Linked DNA regions of Homo sapiens. The protein of the gene in region 4 purifies or fractionates together with the protein of the main gene of each other region. This does not show direct contact. Each region holds a gene or a part of one and is shown on either strand. Other genes may lie near its edges.

Region 1 (3,925 bases), on a different chromosome or scaffold from region 4:
AGGAGCTCAGCTTAGTCAGCACAGTTGGAATTAGACAGATTTTGTCAACCTCAGACTGCCTCTGTTGCCATGGAAAGGTGGCTTCCTGGCAGAGCAGCTAGTTAGCACAAGTGGAGGGCGGCACTTCATGTACTCTTTTTTTTTTTTTTTTTTTTCTGACAGAGTCTTGCTGTGTCTCCAGGCTGGAGAGCAGTGGCGTGATCTCGGCTCACTGCAACCTCCACCTCCCAGGTTCAAGCAATTCTCCTGCCTCAGCCTCCTGAGTAGCTGGGATTACAGGCGCGTACCACCACGCCCAGCTAATTTTTTTTTTTTTTTTTTTTTTGTATTTTTTAGTAGAGATGGAGTTTCATCGTGTTGGCCAGGATGGTCTCGATCTCTTGACCTCGTGATCTGCCCACCTCGGCCTCCCAAAGTGCTGGGATTACAGGCGTGAGCCACTGCGCCCAGCCTTCATGTACTCTTGTGTGGAATGGTGCCTGCCAGAGTTGCATAGCCCAGCAGTTTTGGTTCTAAACCTTATGTCCCAAGAATTTTGACTCAAACTTTGGAACATGATTTGTCAGGTGTGGATTCTTGCACCTTAAAATTGTCACTAGTTGGTGTGTCTGGCCTGCTTTGTGATTATGAAACTTCCCACAAGTACTCTAAGGGATGAGTCTCTACTACAGCCCTTGTTCTTTGTGAGGCATTCCCTTCCCCGTTCCAGGGCTGCTCTCGGTGTTTAGCAGAGGCACCCTCCATCGCTTCTTCCTTTCCTTGCAGGGCAAATTTTCTGACGGGGAAAGTCTCTTAAAGGGGCTTCTGTTCCATCTCACCAGCCTCTCAGGTCCTTACTTTGACCAAGGGTTCCCTGGAAAGACCAGGGTGGGCAGTGTCAGCTGGCTGTGGCCATGAGATGCCCAGTCAGCACATGGCAGTGAGCCCTGGGGTACTGGCCCTGTTGGGAGTAACCCATGCATGACTTGTTTGGCTGAGATAAACTGAGGCCAGCTTTGGCTTCCAGCAGCTGGTACATGGTAGGCACACTTCAGACCTGCTGAGTCACTCAGGATTGGATGTAGGCACCCAGCCTAGTTTGAAGTTCTGCATATAATTCAGCCAGCTAGGACAGAGACATTGTTTCAATACGCCTTTTTAACTGTAGCAGATTTCCATGTTTATGTGTTAACCTGCTCGGTTAAAACCATGCCTTGTCTGTTTTGCCTTGTCTGTTTTCCCTTGCCGTTTTAGAATCACGGTCACTTTCAACATTAACAACAGCATCCCACCAACATTTGATGGTGAGGAGGAACCCTCGCAAGGGCAGAAGGTTGAAGAACAGGAGGTAAGCTAATACTATAATCAGCTTTTACCTCAGTTCTGACAGGCTGTGCCTGGGGCTTAGAGGAGGAGCGTTTTTCTTTGGTCTTTCAAAAAAAAAAAATTCCTCTAAGTCCAGTCGCATGGCTCACGCCTATAATCCCAGCACTTTGGGAGGCCGAGACGGGCAGATCACGAGGTCAAGAGATCGAGACCATCCTGGCCAACATGGTGAAACCCCGTCTCTACTAAAAATACAAAAATTAGCTGGGCATGGTGGCAGGTCCCTGTAATCCCAGCTACTCGGGAGGCTGAGGCAGGAGAATCGCTTGAACCCGGGAGGCAGAGGTTGCGGTGAGCCAAGATCACACCACTGCACTCCAGCCTGGCGACAGAGCAAGACTCTGTCTCAAAAAAAAAAAAAAAAAAAAAAGAGAGAGAGAATGGCAGGGGCATAAGAGACTTTAACTGGATCATGCCTACTCTTCAAACATTTCAGGAAGTGCTGTGCCCAGCCTAGTAACCAGCCAGTATGAGGGCCACAGAGTCCCTAGACATTCTGCCCAAGAGCCATCAGTACAGTGTTGGGTCATGACCTGGTGTGGACGGCGCAGCTCTCTGGTGTGCTGCTTTCCCAGCCACCCCAACTAGCATCTCCCTGACGTTGGACCCAGTCTGCTCCCAGAGCTCCGCATCAGAGGAAAAGCTGCTGCTGTTATTCAGCCATAAGGATGGCCAGGTTCCCCAGCCTTTGACCCTGGTCCCTTATGAAGACTCCTGGAACAGTCAAGCTGGAAAGAGATCTTGAAACTTTAGGAAAGCTTTGCAGTGTACGGGTGGAGGAAAAGGCTTGGAATGTTAAGGGACTGATATAAACTCAGTTAATTGGCACATAGCTGAGGCTGGTATCCACATTTCTTAACTGAAAACCCAGTGTGTTATTTAACCAAGCAGGGTGCCAACAGAAGTGAGATCAAGCTCTTCATTTGGGAATAGTATGGCATAAGACTATTCAAATGGCTACATAATATCCTAATAGTGGTGGCCATCAGACACTCTGAACAGAGATCCTTGATCCAGCCATCCATCTCCTTCCAGCAGCAGCATGTATTGACTTCTTGTTTCCCCAGCCTGAACTGACATCAACTCCCAATTTCGTGGTTGAAGTTATAAAGAATGATGATGGCAAGAAGGCCCTTGTGTTGGACTGTCATTATCCAGAGGATGAGGTATGCAGGATGGAGTGCTAGCCTCTTGGCACCCCTGGGGAACAGTGTGTCCCTTGGGAACTTCCTGTCCCTATTTTAGCAGAAATTTAAACACTTTTCTAGCTTAGACCAGCCCAGCAGGGGGAGAGAGGTGGGGAGTGAGGGAAGAGGGTTAAAACCTGATGAGTTTCATGCTGTCAGTGGCCCCCTTTCTTCCCCTGAGTCTAGCTTGTCCTGGAGAACCCTTCAGTTTCCCAATATTGTTTCTTCTCAGGTTGGACAAGAAGACGAGGCTGAGAGTGACATCTTCTCTATCAGGGAAGTTAGCTTTCAGTCCACTGGCGAGTCTGAATGGAAGGATACTAATTATACACTCAACACAGATTCCTTGGACTGGGTGAGTGCTTGATAAGGTGGGGGAACCTTTTGGGCCTTGGAAGGAAGGGTCCTAGTTCAAGGGGAGAAAAAAGCATTTTAATGTTCATTACAGATTTTTTTTTAACTAGTAAATATTGTTCTTTGCAGGCCTTATATGACCACCTAATGGATTTCCTTGCCGACCGAGGGGTGGACAACACTTTTGCAGATGAGCTGGTGGAGCTCAGCACAGCCCTGGAGCACCAGGAGTACATTACTTTTCTTGAAGACCTCAAGAGTTTTGTCAAGAGCCAGTAGAGCAGACAGATGCTGAAAGCCATAGTTTCATGGCAGGCTTTGGCCAGTGAACAAATCCTACTCTGAAGCTAGACATGTGCTTTGAAATGATTATCATCCTAATATCATGGGGGAAAAAATACCAAATTTAAATTATATGTTTTGTGTTCTCATTTATTATCATTTTTTTCTGTACAAATCTATTATTTCTAGATTTTTGTATAACATGATAGACATAAAATTGGTTTATCTCCTCCAAGGCAGTTTGTCTTTTTCTATTCCTCCCCCTTCAACCTGCGTCACAAAAGACCAAGAACAGATGTCGGAAAAGTTTTTTTTTCTTCAGTATTGTTTAAAAGTTTCAATACAAAATAAGTTATAAATAAAAGGCTTGTATGTACAAGGCTCCTCAGAGGGAATGAGTTGTCTTCAACCCCATAGAATGATGTGAGTCCAAGCTGGCTCTAGAGGATCACAGCCCAAGTATCACAGGCCTAGGTTTAAACAGGAAAATAATTAGCTTAAATTGTATTCTAGTCATGAAAGATATCTGATAAAAGTTGTAATCAATGAGAATTCTACACATTAGATGAGGTCTCCTGAGTCCAGTTTCAATTAGTTCAGTAGTGTAGTTTGTCATGATGACCGCCCCTCTTTGGCATTGCTGGACCTCTGTCCTGCAGCCTTCAAACAACTGCCCTGGGAACCATCAGCATCAATAGTCTTCAAGCTAAGATCAAATCCTGTAGATGAACTAATCA
Region 2 (2,648 bases), on a different chromosome or scaffold from region 4:
AGCTAATGAGGACTCTAGTCCTAACTCTGCTATCAAACTACATATGCACTTGGCCAAGTCACTTAATTTCCTAGACTAGCCTGGGGCTGAACAAGAGAAAAAATCATTAGTAAAAAAATCCTAAGGCCAGGCACGGTGGCCCACACCTGTAATCCCAGCACTTTGGGAGGCCAAGACAGGTGGATCACTTGAGGGCAGGAGTTCGAGACCAGCCTGGCCAACATGGTGAAACTCCATCTCTACTAAAAATACAAAAATTAGCTGGGCGTGGTGGTGCACACCTGCAATCTCAGCTACTCGAGAGGCTAAGACAGGAGAATTCCTTGAACCTGGGAGGTGGAGGTTGCAGCGACCAAGATTGTGCCACTGTACTCCAGCCTGGGCGATACAGCGAGACTCCATCTCAAAAAAGAAAAAAGAAAAAAAAAAAAAATTCGAGAAGCCCTGAAGCAGAAGAGGCCAAGGAGAAAGACAAAATAGCCTAAAACCTGACAAGTTAAGTCAAAACAATTTCAGGAAAATATAATAAGAATCTATTTATTTTATATTTAAGTTCATAAGTCACATCCACATTATGTTCCTGGTAAAAATTCTGAAAGGACACAGCAAAGAGCAGAAAGGGACACCTCCATAGAGTGTCTATGGACCCATTTTTGCTTTCCAACTCCTAATAGAAATGCCTGACCCAGCACCCTCTGGGAAAATCAACCTTTGATTCAAAGAGATGTTGTTCAGCAATGATTACAGTCACAGTCACAGCCACATGCCATCAGCCTATCAGGAAATCTGAGGGGAGGCAGACAACCAGAAGGAGAGTTGCTTCCTCTCTCACCAGGAAGCAACTCTAGCTCCAAACCAGATGGGTGATTCAGCGCCACATGGAGAAAGATAATTCAGCCATTGTGTTTTTAGGATTAAGAAGCACTCATTCACTCGCGGAAGCCTTTAAATGTCACTGGTGCCTGGAACCAAATGTAGTCTTCCCAAGCCGTGGTTCGGATGGAAGGTCTGCCACATGACAGGGTCACAGTCAGTTTATGGCCCCGGCTGGGCACTCGATAGTTGAGCTTGGGTCGAAACCAATCTTCTCCACAGTTGCGGTGTCCCTGTGCCATGACGACGGTGCCCATGAGTGGAGGAGCCTGAAGCTCGCTAAAGGCATCAGCCATGAATATGGCTCGGAAGAGACGGCGCAAACAAGCTGCTGTGCTCAGGCTCTGGTCCACGCTGTAGGGGGCCAGCAGAGACAAGTCGAGTTCATAGAACTCCTTGGGGCTTAGGGCATTGCCCCCAAGGAGAATCAGCACTCGCGGTACTAGTGTCCGTGCAAAGAAGTCCTCCAGGTGGCTGAGGACACTCTCCAGTTCTGCCAGGGCTTGTTGGCATTTCCTGCTGCTCACCTCAGTGGTGGCCCGAGGTTTCTTCTTCAGCATCTCCTCTGCCTGTGAGGACAAAGAATGGTGGGAGAGAAGAACAAGGCAGGGGGAAGCTAATGCTCTTTGAAAAGAACCCTGCTGGGATGTGTACATAGACTTACAGGACTTAATTTCTAGCTCAATGAACCGCCACAGCCAAAACACTGTGTTTTATCAGAGGGTATTATACTGAAAAGGAAAATATATTATTTGTACAAAACCATAATTCTCCCACATTTAGAACAGCAAACACAGTGTTCTGAAGGTGGAGGATATCCAGATATAAGCAACTAAAATAGAAATTTGGTGACATGACAAAGTGACAACAAATTTTTGCTGTATGGGGAGTGATAACAGGAATGAGGATTATTTGGTCTAATAAACATGACTTTGAACTTGTTCTTCCACTTAAACATAGTAAACTGAACACATGCTTATTTGCACTTCCACCTGAAATATTACAAAATGAGAGAAAAGAAATTAAGAAACAAATGAAGGAAAGAAGAGGAAAGACTGACAAAGAAAACTCCCAAGAGGAAAGAACTGGAAACTACACAACACTAGCCAAATGCAAACACAGAAGTTTTGGAAGATAGAAGATGAAGAGTTGGCTGGGCGCAGTGGCTTACGCCTGTAATCCCAGCACTTTGAGAGGCCGAGGCGGGCGGATCACAAGGTCAGGAGATCAAGACCATCCTGGCTAACATGGCGAAACCCTGTCTCTACTAAAAATACAAAAAATTAGCCGAGTGTGGTGGTGGATGCCTGTAGTCCCAGCTACTAGGGAGGCTGAGGCAGGAGAATAGCCTGAACCCAGGAGGCAGAGCTTGCAGTGAGCTGAGATCACGCCACTGCACTCTAGCCTGGGTGACAGAGCGAGACTCTGTCTCAAAAAAAAAAAAAGAAAGAAGATGAAGAGTTAAGAGTTCAAGAGAGCTGAATACCAAGTGCTGACAGAAGGGACCCCCAAGGGATGCAAACTGATCCACACAGCAGAACCCCAGAAAGGTTTAGGAAGTGGTGATACAGGCACCACAGAGGCAAGAGTGAATATAGGGGAAATGAATGAAAATCTGTGTGAAGATGCTTAGATCATCTGCCAAATTTCTCCCCCATCCAGAGGGAAGACTTTCCAATCCCCACAAAGAGATCACCAGGTTCCCACCTAATCTCCTTATAGTGAAGTCTATCAGCTCATAAGGCCCAGGCATGCACACACAGCTTGCAATGATT
Region 3 (7,046 bases), on a different chromosome or scaffold from region 4:
TTCTGAGGTGGCTCATAGGCAAGGAGCCAGGATGTGTGACACTCTGTCTTGACCAACCAGAGATTCTTTCTCATCTCCTAACAGAAGTTATTTCAGAGATACACAACGAGCTGTATGTATTCTGGGAACAGGCTCTGCCATTTTCTTCCCTTAACGACAGGGTCCAAAATAAATCTCCAAGGCTCCTTTGGACTCTGAGCTATCATGTCTCTTGTGTGAATCCAAGTGATGAAATCTGCGTATTTCACTATAAAACTCAAGTTCTTAGAGATCAGAACATAATGTTTTTTGTTTTTTTTTTGAGATGGAGTCTTACTCTATAGCCCAGGCTGGAATGCAATGGCATGATCTCGGCTCACTGCAACCTCTGCCTCCTGGGTTTAAGCAATTCTTCTGCCCCAGCCTCCCGAGTACCTAAGATTACAGGCTCACACCAACACACCTGGCTAATTTTTCGGTAGAGACGGGGTTTCACCATGTTGGTCAGGCTGGTCTCGAACTCCTGACCTCAGGTGATTCGCCCACCTCGGCCTCCCAAAGTGCTGGGATTATAGGCATCAGCCACCACGCCCGGCCAAAACATAAGGTTTTTAAAAATTAAAGAAATGTGAAAACACCCCAAGACTCCTCAGCTTTCTCCAGAAACAGATGAACATACCCTCAACTGATCAAGCTTCTCTCGGATCTGAATGAACCCCAAGTGTAACTTGCCACCGAAGTGGTCTGCCAGGCGACGGTCATTGTCATGGAGACCAAGGTAGGCTGAACAGACCTCGCAGACACGCAGCTTTTGCTGCTGAAAACTGGATGCAGGCATGGAATTTCTGTATTCTTCCTGAAGAAGGAAAATGGAGAAATAAAAGTGAGGTATATAGAACTGCCACCACAAATTCAATCTCCAAAATGAAAATATTTGATAAGATGACAGAGGTGACTTTTAAACAAATATTAAAAAAACACAAACAAAACTTCAGATATTTATAACCAACTCAATTTTCACTGTTTATTTAAGAAACGCGGCCAGGCACGGTCCCAGCACTTTGTGAGGCCAGGTGGGCGGACCATGTGGTCAAGAGATCAAGACCAGGCCAGGCGCGGTGGCTCACGCCTGTAATCCCAGCACTTTGGGAGGCTGAGGCTGGCGGATCACCTGAGGTCCGGAGTTCAAGATCAGCCTGACCAACATGGAGAAACCCCATCTCTATTAAAAATACAAAAGTAGCCGGGTGTGGTGGCGCATGCCTGTAATCCCAGCTATTCTGGAGGCTGAGGCAGGAGAATGGCTTGAACTCGGGAGGCGGAGGTTGCTGTTGAGCTGAGATCGCACAGGCAACAAGAGCAAAACCCTGTCTCAAAAAAAAAAAAAAAAAAAAAAAGAGAGATCGAGACCATCCTGGCCAACTTTGTGAAACCCCGTCTCTACTAAAAATACAAAAATCAGCTGGGTGTGGTGGCACATGCCTGTAGTCCCAGCTACTCAGGAGGCTGAGGCAGGAGAATCACTTGAACCTGGGAAGCGGAGGTTGCAGTGAGCCAAAACCGTGCCACTGCATTCCAGCCTGGCAACAGAGCGAGACTCCATCTTAAAAAAAAAAGGTACTAACAGGCTGGGCTCAGTGGCTCACGCCTGTAATCCCAGCATTCCGAGGCCAAGGCAGACAGATCACTTGAGGCCAGGAGTTCAAGACGAGCCTGGCAACATAGCAAAACCCTGTCTCTACTAAAAATACAAAAATTGGCCGGGCGCGGTGGCTCACGCCTGTAATCCCAGCACTTTGGGAGGCTGAGGCAGGCGAATCATGGGGTCAGGAGATCACGACCATCCTGGCTAACACGGTGAAACCCCGTCTCTACTAAAAAAACAGAAAAAATTAGCTGGGCGTGGTGGCGGGCGCCTGTAGTCCCAGCTACTCAGGAGGCTGAGGCAGGAGAATGGCGTGAACCCGGCAGGCGGAGCTTGTAGTGAGCCAAGATCATGCCACTGGGCGAAAGAGCGAGACTCCGTCTCAAAAGAAAAAAAAAAAAAAAAAGCCAGATGGTGGCAGGCATCTGTAATTCCAGCTACTGGAGAGGCTGAGGCACAAATTGTTTAAGCCCAGGAGGTGGAGGTTGCAGTGAGCTGAGATCACACCACTGCATTCCAACCTGGAGGACAGAGGAAAACTCCAAAAAGGAAAAAAAAAAAATTGTATTCCAGGCCTGGTGTAGTGACTCACACCTATAATCTCAGCACTTTAGGAGAGTGAAGCAAGAAGATCACTTGGCCCCAGGAGATTGAGATCACCCTGAGCAACACAGCAAGACTCAGTCTCTAAAAATAAGAAAATAATTAGCCCGCTGTGGTGGCACGTGCCTATAGTCCCACCTACTCAAGAGACTGATTCGAGAGGACTGCTTGAGCCCAGGAGGTTGAAGGGGCAGTGACCTGTGACTGCGCCACTGTACTTCAGCCTGGGTGACCCTGGCTGACAGCAGGACCCTCTAATATTAAAAAAAATAGGCTGGGCACAGTGGCTAACACCTGCAATCCCAGCACTTTGGGAGGCCAAGGCAGGTGGATCACAAGGTCAGGAGTCCGAGAAGGTGAAACCCCGTCTCTATTAAAAATACAAAAAAATTAGCTGGGCACGGTGGCTGGCACCTGTAATCCCAGCTACTCGGGAGGCTGAGTCTGAGAATTACTTGAACCCGGGAGTCAGAGGATGCAGTGAGCCGAGATCGCACCACAGCAATCCAGCCTGGGCGACAGAGCGAGACTCTGTCTGAGAAAAAAAAAAAAAAAAAAGTAGACAAGGAACTAGCAAGAACTTGAATTTCCATTATAGTATGCTACATAACTAAAAAAAAAAAAAAAAAAAAAAAACTTAAGCAAAAACAATATTGTGGTACACAAATATTCATAACATTACTCTGTCCCCTTCTATAGTTTTGAAACCTTAAATGCCACCTTCTAACATCTTTCAAAATAAACTCTGATTATGTTGAGTAAAAAAAGTCAGTCCCAAAAGGTTACCTACTGTATGATTCCATTTACATAACTTTTTTTTTTTTTTTGAGACGGAGTCTCGCTCTGTCGCCCAGCCTGGAATGCAGTGGCACGATCTCAGCTCACTACAAGCTCTGCCTCCCGGGTCCACACCATTCACCTGCCTCAGCCTCCTGAGTAGCTGGGACTACAAGCGCACGCCGCCACGCCCGGCCAATTTTTTGTATTTTTAGTAGAGACGGAGTATCACCATGTTAGCCAGGATGGTCTCGATCTCCTGACCTCGTGATCCACCCGCCTCAGCCTCCCAAAGTGATGGGATTACAGGCGTGAGCCACCGCACCAGGCTTTTTTTTTTTTTTTTTTTTTTTTGAGAGAGAGTCTTGCTCTGTCACCCATATTGGAGTGCAATGGCACGATCTCTGTTCGCTGCAACCTCCGCCTTCTGGGTTCAAGCGATTCTCCTACTTCAGCCTCCCAAGTAGCTGGGATTACAGGTGCCCGCCACCACACCTGGCTAATTTTTATACTTTTAGTAGAAATGGGGTTTCACCAAGTTGGCCAGGCTGGTCTCGAACTCCTGACCTCAGGTGATGCACCTACCTTGGCCTCCCAAAGTGCTGGGATTACAGGCATGAGCAACCGTGCCCGGCCATATTTTTAATTTCTTTGTAAAGATGGGGTATCCCTATGTTGCCCAGGCTGGTCTCAAACTCCTGGACTCAAGCAATCCTCCTGCCTCGACCTTCCAAAGTGTTGAGATTACAGGCATGAGCCACCATACCCACCCTCCATAAGCTTTTACGCTGGGCAGAAGGCAGCAAAAGGGGAGTCAGCATATCACATGGCAAAAGAAGGAGTGAGACAGAGAGAAGGACCTAGGCTCCTTTAAACAATCAGCTCTGAGGTGAACTCACTATCCCAGGGAGGGCACCAAGCCATTGATGAGTGAACCACCCCCATGACCCAAACACCTCCCACTAGACCCCACCTCCAACATTGGAGGTCACATTTCAACATGAGATTTGGACGTGCCACACATCCAAACCGTATCAAGTGTTATTTTTTATCTTTTATACTGTATTTTTACTGTACCTTTTCTATGTTTACGTACACAAATATTTAGGGGCCCACTGTGTTGCAACTGCCTATAGTATTCAGCACAGTAACATGCTGTACAGGTGTGGAGCCTAGGAGCAATGGGCTCTACCATACAGCCCACATGGCTATACCACCCAGGTTTGTTAAGCACACTCTATAATGTTCTCACAATGATGAACCATGGAACGCACTTCTCAGAATATTTAATCCTTGTCATTAAGAAAGATATGACTGTACTAATATCAGAAATGAAAGACAGGACATCATTACGGATCCACCCACTTTAAAGGAATAATACAAACAACTCTTAAAAACAACAACTCCATGCCCACAAAAGCGATAAACTAGATGAAATGGACCGATCCCTTCAAAGACAGCCAGGAGCAGTGGCTCACGCCTGTAATCCCAGCACTGTGGGAGGCTGAGGCAGGTGGATCACTTGAGGTCAGGAGTTTGAGACCAGCCTGACCGACATGGTGAAACCCCGTCTTCTCTACTAAAAATACAAAAATTAGCTGGGCATGGTGGCAGGCACCTGTAATCTCAGCTGCTCAGGAGGCTGAGGCAGGATAATCAGTTGAACCCAGGAGTTGGAGGTTGCAGCGAGCCATCGCACCACCGCACTCCAGCCTGGGCAACAGAGAGAGACTCCGTGTAAAAAAAAAGTATAATAATGTTGAAAGACACAATCTGCCAAAACTCACACAAGAAGAAACAGATGATCTGAATGAATCTGTATATTAATAACCTTCCAAAACAGAAAGCATCAGGTCCAGATGGGTTTACTGGTGAATTCTACCAAAGCATTAGGGAGCAAATCATGCCAATTCTCTACAATCGCTTTCAGAAAATAGAAGCAGAGAGAGTATCTTCTAACTCCTTCTATGGGGACATTACCATAATACCAAAACCAGATAAAGGTATTACAAGAGGCCAGGCATCATGGTGACTCATGACTCTAATCCCAGCACTTTGGGAAGCAGAGCTAGGCAGATCGCTTGAGCCAAGGATTTCAAGACCAGCCTTGACAACATGGCGAAACCCAGTCTCTCCAAAAAATACAAAAAATTAGCTGGGCTTGGTGGCATGTGCCTTCAGTCCTAGCTATTTGAAAGGCTGAGGCGGGAGAATCAAATGAGCCCAGGAGATCAAGCCTTCAGTGAGCCAAGATCGCGCCACTGCACTCCAGCCTGGGTGAGAAAGTGAGACCGTCTCAGGGCGGGGGGCGGGGTGGAGGTGGGGAGGGCTGGGCGCGGTGGCTCACACCTGTAATCCCAGCACTTTGAGAGGCCAAGGCAGGCGGATCATGAGGTCAGGAGATAGAGGCCATCCTGGCTAACACGGTTAAATCATATCTCTACTAAAAACACAAAAAATTAGCCAGGTATGGTGGCACACGCCTATAGTCTCAGCTACTCGGGAGGCTGAGGCAGGAGAATCGCTTGAGCCCGGGAGGCGGAGGTTGCAGTGAGCCGAGATCACGCCACTGCACTCCAGCCTGGGCGAATGAATGAGACTCCATCTCAAAAAAACACAAAAACAAAAACCAAAAAACAAATGACCAATTACACCAGCACCCGCAAGCATGAAATATTTAGGTAGAAATCTAACAAAACATGCATGAGATCTTCACTATGAGAAAAATTACAAGACTCATAAAAGGTATCAAATGGCCTGGCGAAGTGGCTCACGCCTGTGATCCCAGCACTTTGGGAGGCCAAGGCAGACGGATCACCTGAGGTCAGAAGTTTGAGACCAGCTTGGCCAACACGGTGAAACCCCATCCCTACTAGAAATGAAAAAAAAAAAAAAAAATTAGCCATGGGCCGAGCATGGTGGCTCACTCCTGTAATCCCAGCAGTTTGGGAGACCGAGGCGGGTGGACCACGAGGTCAGATTGAGACCATCCTGGCTAACACAGTGAAACCCCATCTCTACTGAAAGTACAAAAAAATTAGCCGGGCGTGGTGGTGGGCGCCTGTAGTCTCAGCTACTCTGGAGGCTGAGGCAGGAGAATGGTGTGAACCGAGGAAGCGGAGCTTGCAGTGAACTGAGATCGCACCACTGCACTCCAGCCTGGGGGACAGAGCGAGACTCCATCTCAAAAAAAAAAAAAAGAGAGAAAATTATAAGGAAGAGAAAATAAAATACATTTATAGTACTGTGCTGTACTGATCACTTCTGTACGTTTACACTGCTCATTTACAAGATGAATTGTCCGTCTGAAATGGTAGCAACTGCAGCTGCAGACCTCAATCTAATGTATACATCAAGCAACTCAACTTTTTCTTGTAATATCATGGCTGTTCTTGCCTTCTTGGGAGCATTTTCAGCATCACTAGTGGCATATGGATCCTATGGCATTACTCAAAGTTTATGGTATTGCACTAAACACGATGAAAAACGCCTAGGAACCCTGTGAGTTCACTTTTTACTGCAGTAGGAATGTACTGGAGAGGTGAACTGCTCCTTCGGAGATGATGAGTGTCACGTGGTGTTTCAAGGGGATACTCACGACCCTTGAGCTCCACACAATGGCAACAGGAAGTGGCATGAATTATTACAGTAGTACAGTACCTATTACAGTTATTCTTAGGCAGCCCTGATTTAATACTGCACCTCTGCACTACGTTTGTTAACATCTCTCTACGGCGAATGCTGTCATGTATGGTCTGTAAGCGTTTGCATGTAGCCTCTTCTTTTTTAGAGACAGGGTCTTGCTATGTTATCCAGGCTGGACTCCAAAAGTCCTAGGATTAAGGGATCCTCTCATCTCAGCCTCCCGAACAGCTGAGACTAAAGCCAAGAGCCACCATAGCTGGCCATATGCTTAAGTTTTGACAAATGTTACCTTTTCATAATAGACTTGTGTATATTTTATGGCAGTAAATAAAAGACTAGTATCCTCATATATTTTATGTATTCATGACATACCTAACATTTTCTGCAGACTTTGGGT
Region 4 (7,652 bases):
AGCTGTCTCCCAAATCACCTTCATTTCACCAACTAAGCACTTCTTGATGTATTGTCCAAGCCTATCAATGTACATTCCTCACTGGCTCCTGTTAAGAGCTGATGATACAATAAAAGCAACATTTAGGAACCTTTGAAGACTCTGGAATTAAGGAGAAAGTTGAATTACCTACCCCAAGGGAGTAGTGGGAGAGTGGGGGGGGAGGCGGGGTGAGGGAGGCCTTTCTTAACCACCACATTTTTTCACTGTTAATCGTCTGTGAAAAAACTTAACAAGCTCTACTAGTTTACAGAGATGGCAGCTAGGTTGGTAGATGAAAGAAAACACAAGTACTTATCTGGTGATTAGAGGATGTCAGTCAATTAACACATTAGGTAAGAGAGGCAGCTTTCTTCCCTACACCTACCTGAGATTGGGCATCACTGGGGTAATGAATGGGTTTGGGCTTGGAGTAGTGGGGAGGAGCCCACAAGTTTTCGGGATGAAGTCAGGCCTGGCTGAGTCACCCGAGGGGCACTTAGGGAGCAGGGGGGCAGTGAACACCTCTGCATGAGCAGGGGCATAAAAACGGAAGGTGACAACATCCAGCTTTGCCTATTTCAACATTTAGCTCAGAGCCTCCAAGTACAAAGAAAGAGGAAGGAAATGTACCCTCCTTCTCTCTTCTCTTGAGCCCCCTCCTCCTCCCTAGGCCCCCCAAAATCAAACCACTCTTACTAGTACTAGCTCTCCTACACTGGTCAGCCAGAGTTAAAAGAAGGCAATTATGTCTTCCTACAGGAAGATGCTCAAGTTGCAAAAAACTCTTTATAAACTTTTGAAACACAAGCCCTTCAGGACGCAGGGGCTACTTGAGGTTTTAAAAGACCCTTGAACAGTTTCTGCGTGTTCTTAAAAACTTATTTACTGGCATCTTTCCATTGCACTTACACACCACATACACAGTATCTGTGTAATATAAACGCAGGCCAGTGCCAAAAAGATTCTTATCAATTATTCTGGGTTAAACAAGTTAACACATATGGTGGATACCTGTTAGGTCTCTAAAGCTTACTTTTTAAAAGAAGAATTAAGATTTGCTTGAAAAACAAACAAAATGAACCGGCATTCTTCTTAGAAGACCATTATCTTATACACAAATGTTCCAAAAGATGAAGCCAACAACATGATGTGCACCCCCACTTTACACAAGATCCACACACAATTGTCAAACGTGAGGATACAGTGCAATCACATCCTAATATATTCCCCCACAGGAGTGAAATAGCCAGGATGGCACACAAAAGCCCCACATTTGTTCGTGTCACTCACTATGCACTCACCTACAGGAGTCAAGATACACACAGGATTTTCTTACAAGAGATGTTTTAGGCAAGTGTGTTTGTAAAGAAAAATTTTGTTCACTGCACCCAATGTCCTCATTCGCCATAAACAGGAAAAACACGGAGACCCTCAGGTTTTTCTCTATTAAGCCAGATGCCCGCTAACTTCAGAGTCAACTGGCACTGCAATCCTCACACATTCCAGCTCCGGTATGTTACTGTTTGTGAACACAACAATTCTCTGCTCATTAACATTACAGGGGTCTCCAGCCATCTTTCCTTCACTTCTCCAAATTCATCTAAACGTGGCATAGAGCAAGACGCTCGAATGACGTTGGACAGCTTCCTTTTCACACCTGAGCCCCGGTAGCCCCACTAGGCAAAATGCAAACAGGAACCCCGGGCCTTGCTCCGCGCCCTTTGCTTCATGAAGCAACAGAAAGGCCACCTTCCTGGCTGTAAAGGCAGAAGCGCCTTCTTCCCCATAAACATCCTTGGGCAGCTCATCATTCCCCTCCTGCTCGTTCTTCTCCCTCTTCCCAGGCAGCCTGAGAAACAAAACTTAAACTGGACTTGTTGCCTAATCTAAATTAGGATCCCTCTGCTCTTCTCCGTAGCTCCATCTTCTCCCACACACCAGTTACTACAATGCGTAACTACAGATCTACACGTGTTTACGTGCAAGGTCCCCGGGGGCCTGTTCACCCTGGCACTGCCCAGGCGCCGCGCCTCGCGCTGCAGGTGTCCACGCGCGGACCACGGTATCTACCGCGCCCTCGTGTGAACACCCGACCGGGCCCCGTAATCACTCTGGGAAAGCGCCTTCAACAAAGCCCTCCGAAAGCAAGTGCTTTACTAAGTGCCCCTTGAGGCTACTGGCAGTGCGAGGCTGGCTGTCATTAGAACATTTTTCTGAACCCTCAAAAAGGTGAAAAAGCAGGACCGTGCTTTAGCAGGAACACGCACACCCGCCTAAATACCCGATTTTTGAGACTGTCCGGGCGAAGGAATTCAACGCATAGGAGCGAGCAGCCATGCAGTGTGCCTGGAGAATCACCAAACCGCGACGACCACGACCCTCAAAGCCAGTGACAAGCAGCGCGAATCTAAGCCCACCTCGGCCGCAGACCCTTCCCCGTCCCGCCAGGCCGCCGCGCCCTGTCAGCCTCCTACTGCAGGACCGCGGGGCCGCCTGCTCATCTGTCAGACGGGCGCTCGGAGGGGCCGGGAGCCAGGCTGCGGTGGGGCAGGACAAAGGCGCCCACGAACCCTCCCTGCCGCCGCCGCTCCACAGCCGCGCCGCGCCGCCAACATGGAGGGAAACGTCCGCAGTTTAAAACCCCCAGCTCCATTTCCGCAGCGGGCCCGGCTCGGGCGAGCTCCAGCCTCGCCCGCCGCCGCCCCGACCACCCGACTGGGCCAGAAAAGGCGAGGAGGGGAGGAGACGAGGAGGCGAGGAGAGGAGGGGAAGGCCGCCGCGCCAGGCCCCGCGCCCAGGGTCCCCGGCCCGGCCGCTGCGCCGGCCTCGGGCTTCCTCCCCCAGCGGCCCCTCGAAGAACGCGCCGCGGGGAGCTGGGAGCAGGGCGGGGGTGGAAGCACTCACCTGCGCCAGGTTCCGGCGGTGACACGGACGGCTCCCGGAGAATAGTCGCACAGCAACCCGGCGGCAGATCCACGCGCGCGACGCTACCCGGCCGCGCTCTCGCGCCCCGCAGTCCCGCAAGCCGGGCGCGCGCCTCCCCGGCCCCGCCTCGCGGCGCTTCTCCCCTCCCCTCGCCTCCCCTCCCCACCGGCGAGGCCGCCCGGGGCTCCCATTGGCTCCTCGACCTTTTGAATCATCCCCGGCGCTGTCGATTGGTCGCGCGCCGTGGCGCGTCCGCCCCGCCCCACCCTGCCTGGGGGCGGGGAGGCCGGTGAGCGGGGGAAACCGAGTCTGGCGGGGCGGCCCGGAGCGCGACGTTTGCCACCGCCTTATCTCAGCCGCCCAGGCGCCCTCGCAGCACACGGAGCCCGCGCGCTCCCGCCCTTTCCCTCCCAGCGCTCGCAGCAGTGTTTGGGGTGCCAGGTGGCTTGGCGAACGAGATTTTTTTTTAAGCTACAAAGAAAACTAATACATTCTTGAAGTGATCACCAAAGATCCGAGCTCGAAAGCGTTTCTCGGTAAAACACTATGAGTGCCCTCCTTAGCGTGTTAAAATCCCACAGAAGCCCCTGGACCAAGCAGCGGCATCGAAGGCGAGCAGGGGCGCTTTTGTGTCCGCGGCCGCTGAACCTGCGTAGAAGCGAACCCGGACCGATGCTGGGACCGGCGGCGGGAGGGAGGGGGAAGAATGGCCGAGGGCTCCTACGACTTACGCTGCGAGGAGGGGCTCGGTTGTTACCCGAGATGCTGTCGAGATGCAGTAGAAAATCCCCAACACCGCGGAGCGTGGAACAAGAAGTTTTATGCGTTACACACCGAAACACAACTTGACCTGCAACCTACAAGCCTGGTTTTAATTGAACCCCAAAATGCTGAGTCATGTCATTGTTGACTCCGAATCTGTTACGGATCCTAAGCTTTTTTTTTTCTGCTAGTTTTCATTATCGGTTAGTTGATTTCCTTCCTTTGAGGTCGAGAGTTTAAAGCAGTCCATTGAAGTTCCCTATTTTGCAGTGTGGTTTTAATCAAAGTATTTCTTAACACCCTAACTAGGTATATTTAAGTGAATTGCTATTTTGGAAGCATTATTAAATTGTAATAATGAATAGAACTTTTCATCTATAGCCTAGCTTCAGCTTTCATTTTCTCATAGAACTACAAAACACCCAGGTTTACTTCTTAAAAAAAAAAAAGTGAAAATACATCGAGTTTTCTCAGTCATTCACATGCAGTGTGAATGAGTTCATCAGAGCCTTTCCTGAGAAGTTCTGACATCAAATTGTCATTGCCATCGAATTTGCCCTTGGTGGAGATCTGTGCAACAGAAATGCACATCGCACTCCAAAGTCAGAAAATCTTTTATTTTTGACAAACCCCCAAGTCTCAATTGTCTTAACCCTTGACATAAGATAATATTAGTCCTACCTCATAGAGTTTTGCAGTAAATTACACAGAAATAAAAGCGCTTATGGGGACCTAAGACAGATCCTATCCCAAATAGCCAAGCAGTGAGTGCTACACTATTCTTTTCTCATATGTTCTACCCAGAATCAAGATTTCACTGGATTTCCCTTGAGGTGCACATTTCCTGGATGATTTCCACTTGTGAAATAGAAGAAGATTCGTTTCAAAAAAAAAAAAAAAAACACCTGGCCAGGCGCCGTGGCTCACGCCTATAATCCCAGCACTTTGGGAAGCCGAGGCGGTTGGATCACCTGAGCAGGAGTTCGAGACCAACTTGGCCAACATGGTGAAACCCCATCTCTACTAAAAAAATACAAAAATTAGCTGGGCACGGTGGCGAGCACCTGTAGTCCCAGCTACTCGGGAGGCTGAAGCAGAAGAATCGCTTGAACCTGGGAGGTGAAGGTTGCAATGAGCTGAGATCATGCCACTGCCACTCAGCCTGGGCAAGAAGAGCGAAACTCTGTCTCAAAAAATAAATAAAATAAATTTTTAAAAATTTTAAGAACCTTATTTTAAAGATCAGGTTTATAAAGTCTCATCATAACAAAATGAAGCCAAAACTTTGTAAATTAACTAGAGTTAGCTTAGCTAACATTTTACCTAATAAATTACTAATGACATTTTTAAAACAAAACTGATTTGACATCAGGAAAACTAAGCAATAATTTTTGTTCATTTCTACTTCGTGGACTCAAACATACCATGAACAATCAGATCTATATGTAGGCTGCTTTCTCAACAAAGGAACTGTTTGGTATTTTTCTCTTCTTTTTTAAGTCTACTAAAGGCTGTGTAAACTTGGAAGTGGGGAATTTTCAGAAAGTTCTCAGAAAGATGCTTGTCACTCACAACTAGCAAGTTGTGGGTTTTCAGAATCTATAAAGTAAAAGTCACTTAAAAGTCCGCATCTTGGCACCATTGTTGTTAATGAGGCCATGAGTGGCAAAGCCCCTTTCCCCATTCACATAACAAAAGCAAAGCAAAACCCTTCAGTCCTGCCACTAAAGCCAACCAAAACACACATGCGGCCAGGAAGCTTTCATATATAAAATACAGGAACCCCCAGCGGAATGCATTCCAATGTGGCAGTTATTTGGCTCTGGTCTCCAGAGGATCTCGGTTCCCAGGATTGAAACATCTCTTTCAGGAAAGACGTGTAGGTAAAGTTTCACGTGGCGTGAGATCCAGTTGGATTCTTTTGGTACTGTTACATAAGGAACAAACTTCTGTATGCTGCAAACTGCAGAAAGCCTTTATTCATAAGGTAGAGGTACCTCAAAAGCTGTCCGATAAAAACACATTTCTACTGATGATGTTTGATATGGTTTCTATTCACACAGAAATGGAGCTCACAATTAACATGATGCATTATGTCCATCTCAATAGCAATTTAAAAATTATTTGAAACTTCTTCTACATACTATATGTATGTTTGCAGCACTTATCCTCTTTTTTTTTTTTTTTTTTTTTTTTGAGATGGTGTCTCCCTCTGTCACCCAGGCTGGAGCGCAATGACACGATCTTGGGTCACTACTGCCTGTGCCTCCTGGGTTCAAGCAATCTTCTCACCTCAGCCCCGAGTAGCTGGGATTACAGGTGCACGCCACCATGCCCAGCTAATTTTTGTATTTTTAGAAGAGATGGGGTTTGGCCGTGTTGGCCAGGCTAGTCTCCAACTCCTGACTGCAAGTGATCTACCCACCTCGGCCTCCCAAAGTGCTGGTGAGAGGTGACAGCGTGCTGGCAGCCCTAGCAGCCCTCGCTCACTCTCTGCACCTCCTCGGCCTCGGCGCCCACTCTGGCCGCTCTTGAGGAGCCCTTCAGCCTGCCACTGCACTGTGGGAGCCCCTCTCTGGGCTGGCCGAGGCCGGAGCGGGCTCCCTCACCTTGCGGGGAGGTGTGGAGGGACAGGCGTGGGTGGGAACCAGGGCTGAGCACTGGGCTTGCAGGCCAGTGCAAGTTCCAGGTGGGCGTGGGCTCGGCAGGCCCCGCACTCGGAGCGGCTGGCCGGTTCCGCAGGCCCCAGGCAGTGAGGGGCTTAGTACCCAGGCCAGCAGCTGCGGAGGATGCGCTGGGTCTCCCAGCAGTGCCGGCCTGGCCCACCAGCGCTGTGCTGGAATTCTCGCTGGACCTCAGCTGCCTCCCCGCAGGGAAAGGCTGGGGACCTGCAGCCTGCCATGCCTGAGCCTCCCCCACACCATGGGCTCCTGAGCGGCCTGAGCCTCCCAGATGAGCGCTGCCCCCTGCTCCACGCGCCCGGTCCCATTCCGACCGCCCAAGGGCTGAGGAGTAGTGTGGGCACAGGTCGTGGGACTGGCGGGCTCCCTGATGCAGGATCCACTAGGTGAAGCCAGCTGGGCTCCTGGGTCTAGCGGGGACTTGGAGAACCTTTATGTCTAGCTAAGGGATTGTAAATACACCAATCAGCACTCTGTGTCTAGCTCAAGGTTTGTAAATGCACCAATCAGCACTGTGTATCTAGCTAATCTGGTGGGGACTTGGAGAAACTTTATGTCTAGCTAAGGGATTGTAAATACACCAGTCAGCACTCTGTGTCTTGCTCAGGGTTTGTGAACACACCAATCAGCCCCCTGTGTCTAGCTCAAGGTTTGTAAGTGCACCAATCAGTGCTCTGTGTCTAGCTAATCTAGCAGGGACTTGGAGAACCTTTATGTCTAGCTAAGGGATTGTAAATACACCAATCAGCACTCTGTGTCCAGCTCAAGGTTTGTAAATGCACCAATCAGCACCCTGTGTCTAGCTCAGGGTTTGTGAATGCACCAATCAGTGCTCTGTGTCTAGTTAATCTAGTGGGGACTTTGAGAACTTTTGTGTCTAGCTCAGGGATTGTAAACATACCAATCAGCACCCTGTCAAAACAGACCAATCAGCTCTCTGTAAAATGGACCAATCAGCAGGATGTGGGTGGGGCCAGATAAGGGAATAAAAGCAGGCTGCCCAAGCCAGCAGTGGCAAGATGCTCAGGTGTCTTTCCACTTTGTGGAAACTTTGTTCTTTTGCTGTTTGCAGTAAGTCTTGCTGCTGCTCACTCTGCATCTGCATTGCGTTTATGAGTTGTGACACTCACTGTGAAGGTCTGCAGCTTCACTCCTGAGCCAGTGAGACCACAAACCCACCAGAAGGAAGAAAAGTCTGAACACATCTGAACATCCGAAGGAACAAATTCTGGACACGCCACCTTTAAGAACTGTAACACTCAC

Evidence for each region.
Region 1: the proteins of LBR (region 4) and C1QBP purify together in Homo sapiens (co-immunoprecipitation; 2 studies listed by BioGRID and IntAct, with this or other methods). This does not show direct contact.
Region 2: the proteins of LBR (region 4) and MAD2L1BP purify together in Homo sapiens (co-immunoprecipitation; 4 studies listed by BioGRID and IntAct, with this or other methods). This does not show direct contact.
Region 3: the proteins of LBR (region 4) and LUC7L purify together in Homo sapiens (affinity purification with mass spectrometry; 3 studies listed by BioGRID and IntAct, with this or other methods). This does not show direct contact.

What each region holds. Positions count from the first base shown.
Region 1 is NC_000017.11:5,432,275-5,436,199, reverse strand, and holds the end of C1QBP (complement component 1 Q subcomponent-binding protein, mitochondrial precursor), read left to right. Parts: intron 1-1,233; coding exon 1,234-1,327; intron 1,328-2,432; coding exon 2,433-2,531; intron 2,532-2,784; coding exon 2,785-2,907; intron 2,908-3,035; coding exon 3,036-3,185; 3' UTR 3,186-3,423; downstream 3,424-3,925.
Region 2 is NC_000006.12:43,638,815-43,641,462, reverse strand, and holds the end of MAD2L1BP (MAD2L1-binding protein), read right to left. Parts: intron 1,443-2,648; coding exon 930-1,442; 3' UTR 522-929; downstream 1-521. UniProt on the Homo sapiens protein: May function to silence the spindle checkpoint and allow mitosis to proceed through anaphase by binding MAD2L1 after it has become dissociated from the MAD2L1-CDC20 complex.
Region 3 is NC_000016.10:198,404-205,449, forward strand, and holds part of LUC7L (putative RNA-binding protein Luc7-like 1), read right to left. Parts: intron 836-7,046; coding exon 659-835; intron 1-658. UniProt on the Homo sapiens protein: May bind to RNA via its Arg/Ser-rich domain.
Region 4 is NC_000001.11:225,425,029-225,432,680, forward strand, and holds the start of LBR (delta(14)-sterol reductase LBR), read right to left. Parts: upstream 3,011-7,652; 5' UTR 2,926-3,010; intron 2,865-2,925; exon of another isoform or gene 2,303-2,864; intron 1-2,302. UniProt on the Homo sapiens protein: Catalyzes the reduction of the C14-unsaturated bond of lanosterol, as part of the metabolic pathway leading to cholesterol biosynthesis.